Linked DNA regions of Homo sapiens: all the other regions are reported to be linked to region 1. Evidence: microRNA targets listed by miRTarBase, many of them from high-throughput screens and not tested one by one. Region 1 holds a microRNA gene; each other region holds the end of a gene's coding sequence.
What was found. Region 1 holds the annotated microRNA hsa-miR-5703 (AGGAGAAGUCGGGAAGGU, at 3,967-3,984, opposite strand). A microRNA usually pairs through its seed, bases 2 to 8, with sites in the 3' UTR of a target mRNA and lowers its output. Matches are read on the target gene's strand: a 7mer-m8 pairs with bases 2 to 8, a 7mer-A1 pairs with bases 2 to 7 and ends in A, and an 8mer does both.

Region 1 (7,124 bases):
TAAAGTTTTACAATCTAAATTCAGTTACACTCTGAATGAACATCATTCAAGCATATAGGACAGTCATCTGAAAAAAAAGAAACAAGAAAGATTAGCTCCAAGTCTAGTAACATTAACAACAAGATGCTAGTTCAATTTATTTTAAAAAAAGGTATTAGTATAAATGATAGAAGGTATGTCACTATCCTAAAATTTAGAATTCATGATAGTGGATACTATTTGCTATGTATTCATATTTTCCAGGTAAATCAAGGAACGGCAGCTAGCATGCCTTATTTCAATATTTGTAACTCCAGTGCTTAGCCCTATCCTCAAATACGGTATGTGCTCAATAAGTAAATACAGTAACGATGTGTATCATTGAATCCTCTTAACAACCCTGAGCTATATGATATCTTCTTAACATAAATAAAGAAACTGAGGCTACAAGGATGGATCTGGGCCAATCTGCATGTAGTGGCCTAGCATAACACCTTGCCCTAAGCCACGAAGCTAGTAGCATTGTCAAAATCTGACTTCAAAATTCATATTCTTTCAATTATACCATGTCATCTAAACATCAGATACATAATTATTAAACCCAAGAGTTATATTATTCTTCCTAAATTATTTTCCTGCACTATTGCTTGTCAAAGAAAAAAATCTTCAGAAGCTATTGTCCCTCCAACGTTCTGCAGTAGACATTTGATGGTTGCCACTCTAGTCTTCATTCCCTACATCCCAAGAATTCTAGATTTCAGATTTGGGAACTCTATTTGGGGATCCTTGTGACAATGAAGTCAGGTTAGAACATGTGTCCAGTTGTGGCATGATCTAAGCTAACCCAATCAGAGGGAAATGCAGAACTTCTGAAAGTATTGGACCAACGACATAATTAAGGCAGTATACCCAGGAGCTGGGGACAACCATGCTCGAATGAGGAAAATCTAGGCAATATTATTAAGCCACTGTATAGTTTTACTTTAAAATCAATCAATAAACCCTTCATATTTTTAAACCAATTAGATTCCGGTTTTGAGTTACAACCATAAAATCCAAAGTGACAGATTTTTATTAGGATATTTCTTATTTAATATCTTTCACATACAGTACTGTTCCCTTACTCATGGCATGTCCTCTTCCTTGATGCTTCTCATCTATAGGGCACTTGCTATATACCAGGCATTACGTGAGATGTTTAACATACATTATTTTTAATACTGAAAACAAATCTACATCCAAAACTTACAAGGGAAATCTTATCCTCACTGTTTCATATAAGAGAAAAATCAAGCTCAAATAGATTGAGTGACATTCTCAATACCGTATAACTAATACTTGGAGTCAGGATTCAAAGCCATGTGTACCTAGCTCATAAGTACTTGATCTTTCAAACATATGAAGCAGAATTTCTCGTTAAAGGTCTTTGCTCAGGCATCAACTCCCAGAGAAGCTGTATCATTTACATATTTCCTGGCTATCTCATTCACAGAAAGGAAATACTACAATATATTGTAACTCTACGTTTACATACTTACAAGGCACGCTCCATAGAACAGTTAAGATCCAGGTAACTTATGACACAGGACAAGTAGGCAATAAATATTTGTGGAATGACTCAATAGAGAAATGAAGTCCTATCTGCCACAGATTAAGTTCCATTAAGATAAATAATTGTCATTATACTGAGATATCCTTTTATGCACAATGTTTCTGAAATGTGGTATCTAGGAAGAAATTTGAAAATATGTCCTTGATATTACACATTTGCTGCTGTACTTACAGGGACTACACAGAAATGTCAGAAATCCGGAAGTGTAAATATATGTATTTTTTCCAAATCAAATACTTTACATGGATTAAAGGACCTGTGTTTAGTAAAAGCAGGACATACATCTTAACCATGTAATAAAAATCAAATACAATTACAATTGTTCTATTGGCTTCATTTTGGAACCAATATTGTCCAACGTAAGTAACAACTTTCTAGCTTAACTCCTTTTTCTGTAAATGAAATGCATGAACCAGGCTACCTCCTTGATATCACCTAGCTCTGTGATTCTGTAGTAATTCGAGAATATTATTAACTGGCAACTTCTCAGAGTGTCTCCCTGGCCACACAGCCTAAAAGTAACCATGAGCACTCTCCTATCAAACAATTTTCATGTTCAGCATAGTACTTGCCCAAGACATTTTTCTTACTTTTGCATCCCCACTGGACTGTAAGAACCAAGAGAACAAGACTTTGCTATATTTACTGGCACACCCCAGGGCCTTACACAACCTAATAGGCACCAAAAAAAATGTCTGCTGAAGAAATAACACTCATGTAATACTAATAATGCCTCTTTGCCCAACTTTAAAAAGCAAATAGTACATACTAGACATGTTCTGCATTTTCTAAGTTTTAAGAAATCAATTTTCCCACATAAAGTATTATGTGCTTTGTATTAATCTTACAAGCAAAGGTTTTAAAAATACTTAGTAACTGCCACGTTGTTAGTAACTTTAAATACAAGATAATAATATAAAAGCATTTTATCAATTCCAAAACCACCTGCAAATTTTCCGAATGAAATTGCACGGCAATAAAAATCTTTATCAAAATAAAGCTTAATGAAGCAAAGAACAACAAACACAAATCATCCCAGTAACTCAGGACGGTAGTGTCTTTCTGAAATCATGGTGACTTGCTAGCTCTCCTCATTTCTGTGTACAGCCAGGGCACTCGGGTATTGATAGCGAGATACAGATAAATCTCACAGATAACTCCATCATATTTAGAATCACACAGCTCCTAGTGGGTACCTTATTGCCATTAAAACTTTCCCCCAACTCCTCAACACTCTCTTCGGACCATAAAACTAAAATCCCACAGCTTCAAATCTGCTCCTCTGCCTCCCCCTCCCGCAATTAATCCTTTCGAACTTTTCCCAGGGGATTCACATCTGCCATCAAGATGCTTTCATCCTGCTACTATTCCTAAGTGCCTGCTTCCTCCCAGTTACGTAGGTACTCTCGACCCAGAAAAAAGGCACGGGCGAGGCAGGCGTCCCTCCCTCCCACCCCAGCTTCTCCCCGACCCCCAGCAGGAGCGCCCAGCAGGTGCCTCGCTCCGCACCGCGGCTCCCGGGCCGCTGAGAGGCGGGGCACACAAAGGACCCGCATGGACCTCCCCCCCGGCCTCCTAGCGTCTTCCCCCACCCCCCACAGCCCGGCGCCCCGGGTAGCTGGAGAGCGAGGGCGGCGGCCGCAGGCTCGACGGAGACCAGGGACGCTCGCCCCGGTCGCCCCCTCCCTGACCCCAACCCCGCCCACGTCCCACCCACGAAGGCTGCCCAGAACGTAAACCCTCGCCCGGCAAAACCGAAAACGCATCCCCAGCCCGGCTGCCCGGGCCCTGCGCATCCAGCCCGCAGCCTCCCACGCCGCGCCCGCCAGCCGGCGCCCAACGGCCGCCCCCGACCGCCTCCCACGGCACCCGGCTCTTTCCCAGCCCCGGAAGGGTCCCGGTCCCGCCGCCCGCTCCCCCACCTCCCGGGAAGGGCCCGACACCCGCCCGGCCGCCCCGCACTCACAGGCTGCCGGAGCAGGAGGTACACACGAAGGAGCCGACCGTCATGTTAACGTAGGTGGGGCCGCGCTGGTCGCAGTCGAAGCACTTTCGGTTGTGCGGGAGGCCGGTCATGTCCCGCAGCATCTTCAGGTGCTTCTCCTCCTGCTTCCGCTTCGCGCTGGCCGCCATGGCCGCGGCGCCAAGGGAGGAGGCCGGCAGGGCCGGGAGCCGGGCAGCGCTGCGCCGGGGGCCCGCGGTCCCACGGGCCGCCCTGGCCGCGGCCGCCGCCCTCCGTCTGCGCGCGCCGCCCGCGCCGGACCCGGCCGCAGCGGCTTGGCTGTACTGGGCTCGACGCGGCCCGGGCGCTGTGGTACGCGGGCTGACGGGCCACACCAACCGGCACAGCCGGGACAACCGCCGCCGCCGCCGCCACCTTCCCGACTTCTCCTGAGGGGAAAAGACGAGGAAGGGGACGGCAAGAGGAGGCCCGCCCTGGGCGGCCGGTAGCCAAGTGTCCGCTGGCGCCCTCTGCTGGCCAGGAGGAGTCACTGCGGCCTCGCTGAGGCATGGGCCGGGTCTGGAGCCAAGTAGGGTAGACACAATGGTGATAATAATATTAATAATAGACAGTATTTATTGAGCGCTTATATATGCAAAGCGTTTCACATGGGTTACCTTCCCCTTCTGTTTAAAACTCTTCAAGGGCTTTCCACTGCTTTGAGTATAATTCCAAATTCCTCACCGTGCCGTAAAAAGTGCTCCATAGTCTAGCCCAGTCTACCTCATTCTTCGTCGTCCTCACTCAGCCACACTGGATTTTGAGTTTTCTGAACACAGCAAGCTCCTTTCTGACTCCTGCAGGACCTTTGCCCTTGCTCTTCTCTCTTTATCTTTGGGCCAGCTAATTTGGGGGGGCTTGGGGTGTCCTGTGCACTGTAGGATACTGGGCGGCGTTCCTAGCCTATACCCACTAGATACAAGAACAAACCCCCCAATTCCCATTGCTGGCAACCAAAAATCCCCAGACATTGCCAAAAGTGGAGGGAACTTTAGGGCGGTGCAGTCACCTGGCTTGAGAACTGCTGCGTGTGGAAACCCGGATCATCCATAGCTGACATCCTCTAAGTCAGGTGGGGCTCAGATGTCACCTCCCCCGCCAGACTGTCCCAGATCAGCCGAGTTAATGTTGCAGCTCACCTTTCTCGAAGTTGCTCTCCATCAAATTGCTGCGTTGTATTTTCGTCTCAGTTCTAGCTATTTGAAATACTGCATCTTATTTCGTGTTTACCATGGGTGATCTGGACTCTCCCTTTAGGCGCTAAACAGCCTGGCCCCCGTATTTTCTGTGCCACTCCACCCCATTCCCCTCGCAGAGCTGGAGACTAGGTGTTCAATGTTGACGGAATGAATACATGAAATCGTTCATGTAATCTTCACAACAACCCTTCGAGGTGAGCGTTATTGTTATTTACATTTTACAAAACAGGAAGATGAAACCCTGAGGGATTAAGTAAATTTACCCAAGGGTACCTATGGCGAAGCTCAATTCCAACCCAGACAGCCAGACTGCAGGACCCAAATCCCCACTGCAACAATCAACTTCGTCTCTCGTTTTCCAAAGGAGTACAGGGAGACCCAGAGAGCTGAAGTTCTCAAATCACTGGGCTGTTGAATGGATTAGAATCTACGTTTCCTAACAGCCAAGACCAACCTCCACATCTCTCATGAAAGGGATTGGGTGAATCAACAAAGTGAGACTTCATATTAATATAATACTACTAATAATAATTAATGTTTTTAATATTAAAAGAAATGGACAGATAGATTGGCCAATGAATGTTTTTAAACTTTTCTATTATGGAAAATATCAAACTACCATGAGCCCATGGACCACTTTCAGCAATGATTAAGCCCATGGCTAATCTTGCTTTATAAATACCTCAACCCTCCATCCCCTCTCCTATTATTTTAAAGCAAATTCTAGGTTTCGTACCATTCATCTAAATGGTACATAGTTCCATTTGTATCCCTAAAAAATAAAAACTTTATCTCTTTCAAACTTAGCCATGATACCGTTAGCATATCTAAAAAGTTAACAATAGGCTGGGCACGATGGCGCACACCTGTAATCCCAGCACTGTGGGAGGCCAAGGCAGGTGGATTACCTGAGGTCAGGAGTTCAGGACCAGCCTGGCCTACATGGCGAAACCGGGTCTCTACTAAAAATATGAAAATTAGCCAGGCATGGTGGCATGCACTTGTAGTCCCAGCTACTTGGGAAGCTGAGGCAGGAGAATCACTTGAACCTGGGAGGCAGAGGTGGCAGTGAGCCAAGATTGTGCCACTGCACTCCAACCTGGGCAATAGAGCAAGACTCCGCCTCAAAAAAAAAAAAGTTAATAACTCCTAAAGATCATCAAATATCGCACTAGTGTTTAAGTTGGCAATTATCAATATTTTAATGAGATTTTTACAGTTTGTTTGAACCCACTCCTTGCAACTGGGTAATATGTCTCATAAGGTTTCTTTGGGTCTCTCCACCATCTCTTTTTTTTTAATTATAATTCATTTGTTTTAGTAATTGGGCACTTTATTCTGTAGAGTTTCTCATAATCTGTATCATTTAACATGTCCCTCTGTTCTATTTCCTAAAAATTGGTAGTTAGATCTAGTTCACTAGTATCCAGTTCAGTATTTTTGCGGGGCAGGCATTCATTTCATTGTGTTCTTCCATCAAGAGGGACATAATTGAGGAGAGGATATCTTTTTCATGATGTTGGTAACCATTGATGATTAATGTCTAGATTCATTAATTCATTAATGATTAGAAAATACTGATATTCTAATTCTGCCATTCTGGCTGGGTGCGGTGACTCACGCCTGTAATCCCAGCAACTTTGGGAGGCTGGGGCAGGAGGATCATCTAAGGTCAGGAGTTCGAGACCAGCCTGGCCAACATGGCGAAACCCCGTCTCTACTAAAAATACAAAAATTAGCTGAGCATGGTGGCAGGCACCTGTAATCCCAGCTACTCGGGAGGCTGGGGCAGGAGAATTGCTTGAACCCAGGAGGTGGAGGTTGCAGTGAGCTGAGATCCCACCACTGCACTCCAGCCTGGGTGACAGAATGAGACTCTGTCTCAAAAAAATAAAAAATAAAAATAAATAAATAAATAAAACTAATTCTACCATTCCTTCATTTATCAGCTCAAATTTTCTATAAAGAAAAAATTTCCCCTCATCTACCATTTTATTTGGTATAGTACATGTCAGAAAGGCAGGATAAATATTTGATTCCTTTCCTTTATTCACAAATTTTCAAAATAATGTATTGGCTTCATTTCACCTTCCAGTGGTGATCAATATATATAGACAGAGATATATAGATATATCTATATTTATATTTTGGAGACAGGGTCTCACTCAGTCACCCAGGCTGGAGTACAATGGTACAATCATAGCTCACTACAGCCTCGAACTCCTGGGCTCAAGTGTTCCTCCTGCCTCGGCACACCCCCTCAAGAAGCTAGGACCACCACTCCCGGCTAACTTTTGTATTTGTTGTAGAGACAAGCTGTCGCTATGTTGCC
Region 2 (7,111 bases), not on the chromosome of region 1:
AAGTTTCTAGAGCCTGACCTAGTCATTCTTGAGTTACATTATAATGGAGGATGCAAAACAAAGGCTGGAAAACCTGAAACGAGGCCTTCTGTCCTCCAGTTCAGGCTTGATCAACCCTTCTCTTTTTTTCTCTACTGTCCAGGTGTGTGAGAAAGAGAAACTGTTGTCAGAGAGGAATCAACTGAAAGCATGCATGGGGGAACTGTTGGACAACTTCTCCTGCCTTTCCCAGGAAGTTTGCCGAGACATCCAGAGCCCCGAGCAGATCCAGGCCCTGCATCGGTATTGCCCTGTCCTCAGACCCATGGACTTGCCCACGGCCTCCAGTATTAACCCTGCGCCCTTGGGTGCTGAGCAGAACATTGCGGCCTCCCAATGCGCAGTGGGGGAAAACGTGCCCTGCTGCTTGGAGCCAGGCGCGGCTCCCCCCGGACCCCCCTGGGCACCCAGCAACACCTCCGAGAATTGTACCTCTGGGAGGAGACTAGAAGGCACTGACCCGGGAACCTTCTCAGAGAGAGGACCTCCTCTTGAACCCAGGAGCCAAACAGTGACCGTGGACTTCTGCCAGGAAATGACTGATAAGTGTACAACTGACGAACAGCCCAGGAAAGATTATACCTAGTGACTCGGCTCTGCCTCCCAGTCCGCACACCTCTCCCATCCAGGCGTTCTTCAGTCAGCCTGTGGCACTGTTCATCTGCTGTCCCGAAGAAACCGAGAACACATTTGGTGCACACTACAGCGGTCTTAGCAGCAATACTGTTCCGAAGTATCCTCTCCTCTTCTCGAGCAGGAGTGATAGTTACCTTCACAATGGTGCTACCCCTTGCCCAGGCAAGGAAAGACAGCAGTGATGACACTGTCTGTCTGTGGCTCAATTTCAGTCTTCACAGGGATAGACTACAACACCTCTAGGCCCCAACCACGGATTTTTTTTCTCAGTGGCCCATGTCACAAACCCTATCTCAGGAATTTCTTCTGAATGTTCAATTTTTTTCATTGAAGACAGCTTCTATACACATCAAAGTTTTATAGCTAGACTGTACATATTATATATAATATATATATAAAATATATATATATATATATATATATCCATATGCAAAAGTCCTGCATGCCTCAACTTTCTCATCCTAAAACTGGAAACTTATTTCTCATTTAGAAACAGGTTCCAACATTCCTCTTCTTTTGTCTCTGATGCTAGAACTAGTTTGGTAACTGTTAACATGGTCATTTTTCTTGCTTCACAGTTCAATTTTCAATTCGTACTTATTTATGGACAAAATTCAGTGTTGGAAGCTTTTTCCCAAGGTTTTATTTCAGATTTCTTTTTCGTTTGGTTTGGTTTTGGCACCTCCAAGTGGTGTCATTTGAGCATTGTAGGTTTGTTTTTTGTTTGTTTGGGGGGTTTTGTTTGTTTTTGTTTTTGTTTTTGTTTTCCTTGCAGATACTGTACAGTAATGGTCAACTTTGCCACTTGCACTGAGTTTTGGGTCAAACCTATTTTCTTAAATGAAGTTGTAACTTCGGTATAACTCAAGTATACTGTATATTCTTTGCTTTTAGTTAAAAAAGTAAAACATTTTAGCTAATTAAAAAGCACTCAGGTGATAATTATGTAGGAAAAACAATCTTGCCAAATAATGAATTCATCCTAGGATGTGTAGACAATAATCTGCTTGAATATTTTTATATTTCACCTCCTCCCCACCTTTCCCTAAGCAAAGTTTAAACGCAGATAGAGAGTTCAGAGTTGATGCTGGATGTTCAGATTCCTAAGTGGGGAGAGAGTTTGGACATCTCACTCAAAAGTACATCAGAAAAACAGGAATCCGTGATTTTATACCAGAACTCAGCAGGCATTGGCTCCTAGAAATCAAGTTAGAAAGTTTTCACCCAGGGAGTAAGTCCCATTCATTTCAACACGTCCTGAGGCCTCGGCTTGCTCTTGGAAGTGTTGTGCAGTAGGACCTGCTCCCCTGAAGGACGGGGCCAACCAGCCACTGGCTTTCCTGCCCAGGCTTGGCCTCCCAGGACATCTGGCCTGAGGGGATTTGAATCACAGCCCCGAAGGTCCTGCCTTCACCCCATTGGGAGAGAGCAGGGCATCCTGGCATCTGCGATCCATCCCTGACACAGGCTGACACATTCTTTCTCCTTTCCTTCTCCAAAGGCTTGGAGTTTTCTTCTGAGGTTTTTCTGCCAGTGTCTTGTCTGAAGGCAGACTTCATTCTGAGGCTTTGGACAAGCTATCACCGGGAACCCTCCCTGTCCCCTTCCCGAATCACACACATACCCTACCCTCACCTGATGATAATTTTCTCTTCTTGCTGCAAAACTGGTTGGCTTGCAACCCAGAGAGAGCAGCTTCCCTTGGCTCTGGGGCCGTGTTGGCCCCAGCCACGTTTACAGGAAGGTGTGCCCCAGAGGAGGAGGAATCAGCTCCCTCGCTCCAGTGGCCTTGGGTCCGGGTCTCACTGAGCAGCCCGAGGGCCACTCCAGCCCGGCTGGGGAAGAGAGTCCTGAACGGTTTGATGTGGGGATGGGGTGGTGGGCAGTGGGGAATAGATGGTTGACTTTGTTTCTTTATTTGTGCCATTGTTTGGACAATATTAAAGCTGCATGTAAAAGGGGAAATTAGTATATGATGTAGGCTAAAAGTGAAATCATAGTAACATATGTTTTAGTATTATTAACTTTTTTCTGTACAAATATTAGCACTAAATGTTTAAATATGTATGAATGCCAGAAATTTGTCAGTTCATGCAGTAGGATAAAAAAAAAAAAAAAAAAAAAAAAAAGGCTTTTCTTTTTAAACAGTTCCACTTTTAAAACCTGCCTCTGGGTTTTTGTTTTTTCTTGTTTGTGTGTGTGTGTGTGTGTGTGTGTGTGTGTGTGTGTGTGTGTGTGTGTGTCTGAAACAGATCTTGATAAAGCTCTGTGTTGGAGCTGCTGGTTTTTGTTATGGTTGTTGGAATTTCTTGGCCTACTAGGACAGTTCTGTGCTTCACCATGAGGTTTGCCTTTGTGGAAAACTGGTGACAGTGAGAATATAAACTCAATGTGAATCACGTGATACTTCGCAGGCGTGTGTTACAGTGGAGTCAGCTGACAGTATTTTGCTTTTTAACTCTATTGTTGCCTTTCCAAGTGACCTCTCCTCTTCTTTTAAAAAAAGAACACTTTCTGCTCATATCATAACCAGGTCCAACCCAGCTTCTTGGCATGAGGTTTACCCTGGTAACAACTCATGTGCAACTGGTAGTCTTGACCACATTCCATCCATTTCCTCAGGTTTCTGTGGTTCAGTAGCCCAGACCTGTTTGGCAGCCATTTCTAGCAGGGGCGGGGCCTCTTTATTTCTCTCCACCCTAACTCAGACCTCACCTTCCTCCCACCCACCCCTGCCTTGCTTTTCTTCCTCTTCCCCCAACCTAACTTCTGCCATGGGAACTGGTTAAAAACACTGCTCTAAAAACCATCTTCCAATTTCATAGAGATTTCTCACAAGTTATTTCATTCATAATCCACCATGAACAGTGACTAGCTTCGTGCAGTTGTTCATGTGATGTGTGTGTGTCTTTTCCTATTCAGAACTATGTGCTTGTCAAAATTATTTCTGGGTTGATTCAAAGGGAGGACTTGCTGGGGACCAGAATCCAAACGGCCTCAAGTGGAATTTTAAAACCTAGCCTGTCTCTTTTCCCTGGGATCCCTCTGTCAACCCCACGCCTTTTAGGAAAAAGAAAAGTGAGTGAACAGCAAGGAAGAGTGTTTGCACAGTACAGTAACATTTGGTTGTTCTTAAGGCTCTTTTCTTACAAAAATAAGAGACCCTCCAACCACGGGCTGTTTAGGAGGATGCCTGCTTGGGTCTCCAAATGGCTGGGGTAGGAATGGTTGTTGGGGCAGAGCCAGTGGAGGTGAGTGACCCTGAGACTAATGAACATCCCACCTAAATCCAGTCCTCCCCTTGGATCTGCCTTTGTCCTGCTTGTGTATCCAGGCAACCTCTTTTCAAGTTGGTCAGGCTTTGGACAGGTGAGTGATTTGCTGTATGTGTTTGTTTCTCTGCGTTACCTGGGGGTGCCTTGATTAAAATCGAACTTTATTACATACTGATTCTGGAACAAAACAGTTAGAAAAACTTTAAAAAAAAAAAAACCGACAAAGTTACGAGGCCATCCTGCTATTTATCTTCTGAGTTCCCAGCAATGACTCAGGCATCAGAGATGATGCTGCAGTGGAAAACCTGACTCTGTGTGTCTGCAACTGAATGTTGTGCGAGTAATTTATTAACTGTCTTTCTAAAGGTTTGCTGCTTTTAAGATGCACTATAATTCGGGATGTAATCCTTACATTGCTTTTCCAAGGAAGGGAACAAAAGTCTAGTGATTAGTATGCCAACTGCCACTACTCCTTCAAAAGGAGCCAGGACCAGCGACAAGACTCATGAGAGGACTGGCTAAAGTGAAGTGTGCACAGTGTGAAGTTTAATGCTGTTGTCAAGAGGCCTAAACCCACATTTTCTCTTTTAATATTTTATGATTGCCATCAAAGAAGAAGAAAAAGAAGGAACAGACAAAGGTTTGAAAATGATAAGCCTGTTAAGACACCAAAAACTCCTGTCCCGTGAAGCTGCTTGACATCCTGTGGAGTAGCATAATCCTCTCAAAATGAGGAAGAGCTGCCTGCAAAGCTTTCTCAAGTCCCTATTTGGCTACCTACTTCTCTACATTATGCCCCATTTAAACTAGGAGCTGTCTTAGAAATGACTTCAAACTGCTTCACTATTGCTTACAGTTTAGGAGGAGTCTCAGATCCAGAAGGAGCAAGAATCAAGTTTGGTCCTCAAATGACTGTAAATAGACTAAAGAACAAGGTGTTTTTTGTTTTTGTTTTTGTTTTCTAAGAATAAAGCTGTTCGTTGTATCATGAGTTAGTGTTTCTTCCCCAAACTGAAGACTGTGTTGGAAGTGCAATTTCTGGTGAGTCAGTCCACAATACAATGCCCTGTGTGGAGTTGGTATTCATACAGGAAATCTGTGTGCACGAGGCATTGTGTGTTGAAAGTGTATGTTTATAGTACTGCCTGAGCCATCTCATGACCCCAGCGTCCAAAACCGATGCTGTAGAACAGAACATATCTGTACACAAATAGTGTGTGCAAATAGCATTTGTACATAGAAAAGTCTCATTGTGGCAGATTGAGCATAAATTATTCAACTGACGGTGCAAAAACATTACTTGCAAAGAAAAGTTTATAGTATTTTCCTACACTCCACCCTGGGAGATGATATTTCTATCAAATGAATATCAGTGCATTTTAAATGTAATATGAAAACGATGCTGCCATTTTGTGAAGAATACCCACTTGGTTGCAGAGGCCAACTTTCATAGCTTTGATTTAATGTTGTGACACGGTGTATGCATTTTGCTGTCAAGCAATGGATAAACAGCTCTGACTTTCATTCTCATTCCAGTTTATTGACCTCAGATAAAACACTGGCCCTTCTTAGAAGCAGAAGTGTGCACCAAGACCATTCATTTCAGGTAGACTCACATTCAGTGCCAAGTGCTCCCATGGGAATAATCAGACGCATATGTTGCGAAAGAGTGAAGGGACTTGGACAAAGAGGGGTTTTCCTACAGATGGATGCTCAGTCTTCTACCAAAACATGTTTGGAGGCAGAACTATGACCTCCCCTTAAGTCCTAACAATGTATTTTGTGTGTGCAAATCCTGGGATGCCCGTTTCACGCTCTGACATAAAGACATGGCACCTCTAGTGAGTGATCAGGAAGATTCCATATGCATTTGGGAGCTTCAGGTGCTTGTTAGACACAGTGAGCCATTCAAGGCAAGCACCACCTTTGCTAGTGAGGCCAAGAGAGCCTGTGACAATTTGACAATTTGTTCCAGAACCAGTCTGATGCAAGTGCACCTCTAATATATGCCTTACAAACTCCAGAGGCCATATTCAAAACAGGGTCTTCTCAGTGTATGCAAGGGGCTGCAGCCCCTCTTCTCTTCCTCCCCAGGTTGAACAATACGGACAGTTTTCACACATATCTACCTGTATAACCCTCTGTACCTCTCATAACTGGTCAACGACTGTAACAGGTTACATCAGGTGTTTTTCTACATACTTTTTACACAGATTCTATGCGATTAATGTAATTTAATTCAATGCATCATTTTATTGTACTAGTTCTTAGGCTTGTCCTTATTTTTTTCTAAGTGATTGTGGTTTTTCTCGTGGTTTTTATTGTAAAAAATGAAAGGCTGTTGATGCTTATTCTCTGTAACTAAGAATTTTTACCTTTTGGGGGAAAAAAGCATTGCTATGAACTAATGAATTGAAACTTCATTTACTCATTGTAAATACACTATTGTGCAAAAAAAGTTTTCACTCAATTGAATTGCTAGTGTTAACTGAATTTTGTCTAGACACCATTTCTGTTGATGAAATAAAGACATATCATTATGCATTGTAAACTGATTTTCTCTGCCTCTGATCCCTATGTTCCAAATTACAGAGTGAGAAACCTCAGGAAATCTTTTTTCCTAGAGGCCATTTCTCTTCCTCTAGTTTGGACCCTTACTTGCTACCTGATTAATCTGATTAGGAATCTTTAAAATTGGATAATATTAATGTGATTCCTAAACTCTGAATTTTAAAAATCCCTAGTGCCTGTGAGAGTAGATAAAAGGCTTTAAACCCAATTTCTCGGTTTTGATATTGTGCTATCGCTATGCAGAATGTTACCACGGGAGAAAACTGGGTGATGGGTATCATTTCTTGCAACTGCATGTGAATCTGCAATTATATCCAAAATAGGCTGAATTTTTTAAAAACTAAATGAAAGTAAATGAGAAAGAACATTAAGCCAACACCAAGATGCAGTGAGTTGCAAGGAAAGATGTTTAGAATTGTGGTTGAGGAATCCATACAGTCATGCATTGGTTAGTGAAGGGGGTACGTTGTGAGAAATGCATCCTTACGCAATTTCCTATTGTGAGAACATCAGGGTGTGCCACACCAACCTAGATGAGAAAGCCTATGACACACCTAGACTAGATGTTCCTAGATTGCAAACTTGTGCAG
Region 3 (7,111 bases), not on the chromosome of region 1:
CTATCATTTAATCTTACCAGTTTCTCCCTGCTTTTCTGTGTCGTATCTGAAAAATCTCACTAGAGAACAAGTAATTCTTCAGGTCCCATAAATACTAAAATCACAAAGTAAAGATATGTTATGACTCCACATAGTATCCACATGAGCAAGTTTAATCTTTAGCAATTTAAGAGTACTACAAAAGAGTAAAGTCCCCCCAGTTCCCACTTCAGCATACTTGGGGCTCCATTTTGAAGTGTCTTAAAGAGTAGAGAACCATATCAGTAAAGTGGTCAGATTCACTTTGAAAAAAGGAGCACATGTATAGTGTATTTTTTGAGATCTGTGTTAGATAATACTAATTATACTTTTAATTATATCCAACTTTAAATAGTATATTAAAACTGTAATTTACCTTTTAAAAATCCAGTAGGTGCCAGTTTAAATAAGGCAACTTTAGAAAAATTTCAAGGACTGATTCTTACTTAAATCAGGAGCATTACTTTCAAAATAAATTGGATACTGGTATTATAAACAAATACAAATCATTACAAAGAAACCTGGAGAGGTGAAAAAGATCCAAAATTTTTTCACATAAAGACAATCACTATAAGCAATTTTTTACTTACAATCTTTTTCCTTATGTAATTTAGATGATATATTTATGTTATTATTTTTTTAAAAGAGTCTTGCTATGTTGCTCAGGTTGGCCTTGAACTCCTGGGCTCAAGTGATCATTCTGCCTCAGCCTCTCAAATAGCTGGGACTATAGGCATGTGCTACCATGTCTGGCTGAGAAGATCCTTTTTAATAACATTTAGTTTCAATTTTAAAATATTAATATTAGTAAAAAATGATATTTAGGTAAAAGGTCCAACCACTTTTAATAAGTAGCTTTCAACTCTCTGAGTCCATTTCCTCCAGTAACATGTAGGAACTTAACAGTATTTTTGGGAGTGTAAAAGAACTGAAATGACAGGAAAATAAGAAATGAGTCAAGATTTGCCTGTGAGAAAGGACTGAGTATTACTATTCGAAACAACCTTTTTCTCACAGGAAGACAAATACCACATGATCTCACTTACATGTGGAAGCTAAGAGAGGTGATCTCATAGAAGTAGACAGTAGAATGGTGGTTACCAGAGGCTGGGAAGGGAAAGGGAGGGAAGGCAAAGATGGGGAGAGGATGGTCTGAAGGGCTACAAAGTTAGTTAGATGAACTAAGAAGAGTAAGTGCTGATGTTCTATTACATAGTGGGGCGACTACAGATAATAACAATGTATTATATTTCAAGATAGCTAGAAAAGTGGGTCTTGAACGTTATCACCACAAAGAAATTGGAAAGGTTTAAGATAAATGACATGTTAACCACCATGATTTTATCATTATACAATGTACACATGTATTGAAGCATCACACTGTACCCTAATAAACATGTACAATTATTATGTGTCAATTGTTTTTTAAAAAACAGTGAAAAAAAATCTAGCCTGTTTCTGATACCATTAGAACTGGAATTTTATTATTCTTTATTTTTGATTAAATTGAATTTCGACCAAAAGAACCTTCTATAAAACAATTATCTGGACCTTTGGTTTAGTTTATCGAATATTATTCAAAAATTTCAAAGACCCAGTTTATTTCTGAGATTAGTCTACATGCTTGTCTGATTTTATACCTTCATTAAGTTCCATCAATATAATAAACAGTACCTAGAAATCTTTACCCTTTGGATTCCTTTAAGCAGAATGATTCTTAACCATTTTTCCCCTCATCCCCTTGTCCAGTTTTCACCTTTACAATTCTGCTTTTAAGTTTTCCTGGAAAATTCCTTAAAACACATATTTTAATTTTACCAGATTTTACTTATTGCTCGGTAATTTTATCTCTAATATAAAAAGGAATGAATGCAAAGTAGAAAAATGCATCTTTAGGATGAAGCCAGATAACAAAGATAAATATTCCTTTAAACAAAAACAAAAAAACTATCATAAATCAAACTATTCTGGTCATTAGAAAAATTTATTAAGAGTCATGACATAAACCACTGTTGACCTAACCTTTAGGTTGAGAAGTCACTGACAACAAACTAAGTTATTTTCATCTGTCAACACTTTAAGATTAATGATTTTTCAATATTACTATTTATTTCACTTTGAGACAGAATAGAGAAGCAGTGGTAATTTTAGTTCATCTACTATCAAGATAAACGACAGTATGATAGGTATAAATTCAAACCTGGATTCCAGATTTTCAGTTCAGCGCACCTGACTTTTTGGAAGTGCTAAACCTTTTGTTTTGTTTTTTGTTTAAATTTCTACTCTTTGGTAGAATGAAATTGTATGTCCCAAACTAGTGAGCCATTCTCTATTAATGTTTAACATCCATAATACATTAACGTTCACTTGATCCAACTCAGATACTTTGGCAAGGAAGAGGATTAGATCTACCAAATCTGGGTTCTACATCTAAAAAGATTTGGGGCCATGATACAAAAATGACTAATTTGGAAGTATATGTTTTAATTCTAATTGGAAATAACTATTTATAAATACTTGAATAAGGGCTTTTGGGGTCTATATTTGTTAAAGGCAATATGATATATTACATATATAACAATACTGCATATTTTGTTAGAAATATGGTTTAATAGTCACTTTGCTGACTTAATATTGTTGATCTTTAACTCTGCAAGTAGTTAAAAAACCCAGAACAGAGTTCATTATACTTCTGTTTTAAAAAGGGGGTGGGAGGGATCATCTCTTGAAAAACAAAAAGTATTAACATTCTAAAAAAAAAAATCACTTATATCTAGTACTAAGGATTGTATTTCAAGCTTTTTAAAAAACATAGTTCAAGTGTATTTATAATCAAAACTATATACTTACACTAAAAAAGACATAGTAATACATTCAAATATAAAAAGTATTAGGAACAGCTTGTACATATTTTAGATGTTCTGTAAGATAAGTACTTAAGAGGACAAACTTTTTAAACATCTAATAATCAATAATGTTAAAAATGTTTTATTTCCTTTGAAAAGGTCTTCTTTGAGTAGGATTTGCCTTACCTTGAAAATGTATACTCAGAGCCAAGTAAAACAACACTTCAACCTTTTCTAATTAATTTATAGCCTATAATAATTTCAAAATATATATCACAACAAATAACTACCAAAGTATATTCTCCAACTACAGTTCATTTTAACCTACAAGGTGAATTTTCTGATAACATAATTTGATTTACAAGGAATAGTTAACAATTCCATGTCTCCTGTTTTGACAACACCAGGCAGAGCTTAATTCTAATAACGCTATCACTGACCTTTCTAACTCAATCCACATTTGTCATAAAAACAATTATCATTCCTAGTTTTGCAAGCTCCACGTCAGCAGGAGGTGCAATTGGCGTGAAAGCTACGTGATAAATGCCTCAGGGAAAGAGTGCCTCATGTCACTCAAGATGACCCCTTCCTACTGATTAAGGAGCAACAGTGACAGGCTCTCATCAAGTTCACCGCTTAACTGGAAAGGTGTATAAAGGCATAAGGATTGCACATTCCATGGATATTTTTTTCATGTGAAGGTATTCATTTAATTAACTTTCTATAGCAGCATAAACAAAAATGGCAGATATTTTCTGGAGGTTATATAAAGTATCTTAGTGTAATGCATTTGTGCTTGCTTAAAAATACTAAGACTGCAAAAGCACACCCTACACCCTATCCACTCTAAAATAAAATTGCTAAAATAATACTCATCAAAGGATTAAAGTACTGGACACTTGAATATTCACATTTATAAACTAAAACAGAACACCAATTATTACTGAAATTAATTTTTTAGCAGATGTAGAAGACAATAAAATTCACAATACTTAAGCCTTATTTACCTTCCTAGACTGTGGGCCTTTCCTCTTTTTTTGTAGTTAGCCCTTGTCAAGCACACCACCTGGTTCAGAGTAGGTGTTCAAGAAATGCTGAATTCAAAGGAATTAATTTCACATTTGACTTTTATGAGGATAAATGTTTTTCTGGTCATCTTGGAATGAATAAAATGACAGAATATGTATATACTTGGATGATTTTATTCTGCAAAGTGAAATTAAAAATTAACAACCTAGAAAACTCTAACTTCAAAGAGATTTAAGAAACTGCCAGTAAACAATGCATGGGGAAAAGCTGAATCTTAACTGCTCAGAAATCTCCTCTCCAGCTTTATTTACATTGTAATAAGGTCTCTTACAGAAATTTAAAAAATATGATTCCATAGAACTATGATATCACATCTGGCAAAATACAGTGAAGAATAGCATTTCTCAACCTTGTCTTCAGATGCAACTTTGAAAAGTCTGCCATTGAAAATCTAGGACTAAGACTATGAATTATACTTTACTTATTGAGAATTTCTTCTTCCTATACCTCCAAGATAGATTTGGGCAATTATTCAAGGCAATTATTATTATGTTTTCTAAAATAAAGTATAAGAAGTAATTTTGGGAATGAAGCCTTTTCCTGAACATTTAGATTCATACTCATATACTGGTATTGTTAGCCAGGGCACAGAACACAGTAACCTATGTTTGCCACGTTGGACTTTCGAAGAAGTGTAAAACTTCTTAAAGGCAGAGACCTCAGTGACATCTGTTTCACACTTCATGTCATCACTGCTTGTAGAAGTTGGCAGACAGAGCAGTCAATTATGAAATATTAATGCTAATTGCAATTAAACAAATATACGTTATGAACATCTAATTTGGAAAACTACTTTGTACTAACAGTATAAAACCCTAACTCATGATGTTGATTCCTTAATTACCTTAGAATTACTACCAACTTAAACAATTACTATATTGCCTTTTGTCTAAATGATTCATTATAATCAAAAGAGGAGGTAAGAATTAGAAAGGAAATAATATTTATTAAGTGTCATATGATGTGATATGCTAACAATTCTATCATGACAAAGATACCTGGTGTGATTTCTATTTGACATGTAGGAAAGCCAAAGCTCAGAAAAGAATTTGCCTTGCAATTTAGTTATTAAGAAACTAGACAAGGATTTGAAAATGTGTATGATGTCAAAGCCTATGTTTACAAGTTTATATTAGTTTACCAAGCAAACACTATCCCAGACACCTTTACAAGTGAAGTAAAGAGGTACTCATTGGAATAAAAAACGTTCTTATTCATCATCTGGAGAAGCACTTTACTCTCTATAAGCATTTAAACTCTTCTTAGATAGTCTTCACTATATCATTTTTTGTCTGATACTTTGGCAGATTAATAATAAAGAGATTTGTATGATGCCAAATTTGAAGGCTAAATAGAAACTAGTATTTCCTGAGTATGTGTGGAAAAAGTACTTATTTAAAATATTTTTTCATACTGATATAGCAGTTTTCAATTTAGATTACAAACCCAGTAATATGATACTGAGCATTTGTATCTTGTTAAAATATCTATTTCCAAAATAAAACTGAAGTGTATTGCTTTAGCAGATTAACTGCTAAGGTCATCACTTGAATTACATAAAAGCTAAATGGAAGTGTTTATTTTCCACCTGTATCATAATGTAACTTACTCCCAGTAGTGAAGAAACTCCAATCTCAAAAGTGGTTATTATCCACACCCTTTCTTTTAGTTTTACTACAAACTGCTATAAGGAAAAACTGCAAATTAAAACATTACTACTCAGTAAATTCATACTATATATTAAGATCTTAAATAATCTCAAATCTATTACTTAGATGCCACTCAATATCTTAATATTAAACTCATAAACCTATGCAGCAGAATGTTTTCAGGTACAGAATACTGGGTTACATAGGGCAGCGACAGATACATTTTGTATATGAATTGCTAAAATAAAACAGATCAAGGAATTGAACTGTCAGACTCTGCATATTTGCTGCATTTAAAAACCAAAAGAATATTAATTATTACTGTAAATTTTAGAAATGTTTATTTTAGAAACACACAAAGCTAAAATGCATATTTCAGTCCAACAACCTAGAGAGAAGAAATAGGGAGCTACATGTTTTTGTTTAGTCTTGTTTTTTCCTCAAAATCCATCCCTAAGAGTCAGGAGCTACAAGTTTATAGGTACGCATTTGTATGAATATGCTTGCCATGATTCTAAGACCTAGAACATCTAGAATACAGGACATTACATTTTTATTTGAAAAAATATTTAAATTAATTTTACATGTACAATATAATATCACTTTCAGAACAAAAAAACATTAATGAAAGTAGAATATACTAAAACAAAATTATTTTTACTTTTGAGTCAAATTCTACACCCTGGAAAAAGTCAGAAGCCCATACTAGAGTTTTGTAGAAGTTTTTTTAAAAATGCTTTTAAAATTTAGCAAGGCTGCAAAGTCTGTCAATAAATAAATCAAATTACTATCTGTCAGTAAGCTATGAAGTCCACAGTAAGTACCAATGCAAACTGAACAGATTTAGAAAGTCAATCCATACTTTCTAGCATCATCATGAAAACTCCATGACTGACCGACACATCATTTCCAATGTTATCATCAAGGCCTCAGTGTGTACCCCAGGACACACTTTCAAATTCTCAGGCAGTTCCTTAAGAATGTGTGGGAGTTTCTGCAATGTCTTTATATTTCCAGCATAAAGATCCAGTAACCAGTCAGTATGAACACTGGTGGTTTCTTTATGACTTTTACAAGCCATAAGCAGTTCATTTAGATGAGTTAACCCTTTGGAAGCTAAAATGAACTCTGAAGATAAATCAAAAATTGAACAAAAATTTAGCAACATCCTACTAAGTAAAAAGGAGCCAAATTCAAGTTGCTGGTAATGAAAATGTTTCTCTGCTTGTGCATGAAAGTTCTCCACTGTATCTTCTATTTTTGTAATAGCAAACAGTTCTTCTTTGATTTGAGGTGAAACCACATAATCCAAGGGCAATTCTCCCTTAGCATTCCTCTGTTGTAAAAGCACTGGGCCTGTGAAAAGAAAATGCAAAATGTTGCAAGTAAAACATTTCTATTTTGGCAGCTTAACAGCTCTTTTCTCCTTTTTCCCAAAGCATCCAGTGCTTTCTTTGCAATCATATTTTGTATTAATTCATGTCGACACAATTAACTGACTATATATAT

Region 2: miRTarBase lists BACH2 as a target of hsa-miR-5703. Seed matches in the 3' UTR shown: 8mer at 2,166-2,173.
Region 3: the mRNA of SLF1 is a reported target of hsa-miR-5703. Seed matches in the 3' UTR shown: 8mer at 5,176-5,183.

What each region holds. Positions count from the first base shown.
Region 1 is chr2:227,469,022-227,476,145 of GRCh38, reverse strand. MIR5703 (microRNA 5703) reads right to left here and starts at 4,014; the gene lies at 3,959-4,014. AGFG1 (ArfGAP with FG repeats 1) reads right to left here and starts at 3,990. Exons shown (of 13, transcript NM_004504.5): 1 at 3,558-3,990. The coding sequence starts at 3,724. It overlaps LOC124907994 (a long non-coding RNA gene), which reads left to right and starts at 4,047. Exons shown (of 2, transcript XR_007088114.1): 1 at 4,047-4,986; 2 at 5,157-5,358. RefSeq lists a silencer at 3,282-4,001 and an enhancer at 4,114-5,077.
Region 2 is chr6:89,925,922-89,933,032 of GRCh38, reverse strand. BACH2 (BACH transcriptional regulator 2) reads left to right here. Exons shown (of 9, transcript NM_021813.4): 9 at 143-6,505. The coding sequence ends at 625. Among named protein-coding and RNA genes, the nearest start is that of GJA10, 35 kb to the right of the region's middle. RefSeq lists a silencer at 4,929-5,223.
Region 3 is chr5:94,694,678-94,701,788 of GRCh38, reverse strand. It overlaps SLF1 (SMC5/6 complex localization factor 1), which reads right to left. Exons shown (of 21, transcript NM_032290.4): 21 at 4,168-6,958. The coding sequence ends at 6,477. Among named protein-coding and RNA genes, the nearest start is that of SLF1, 80 kb to the right of the region's middle.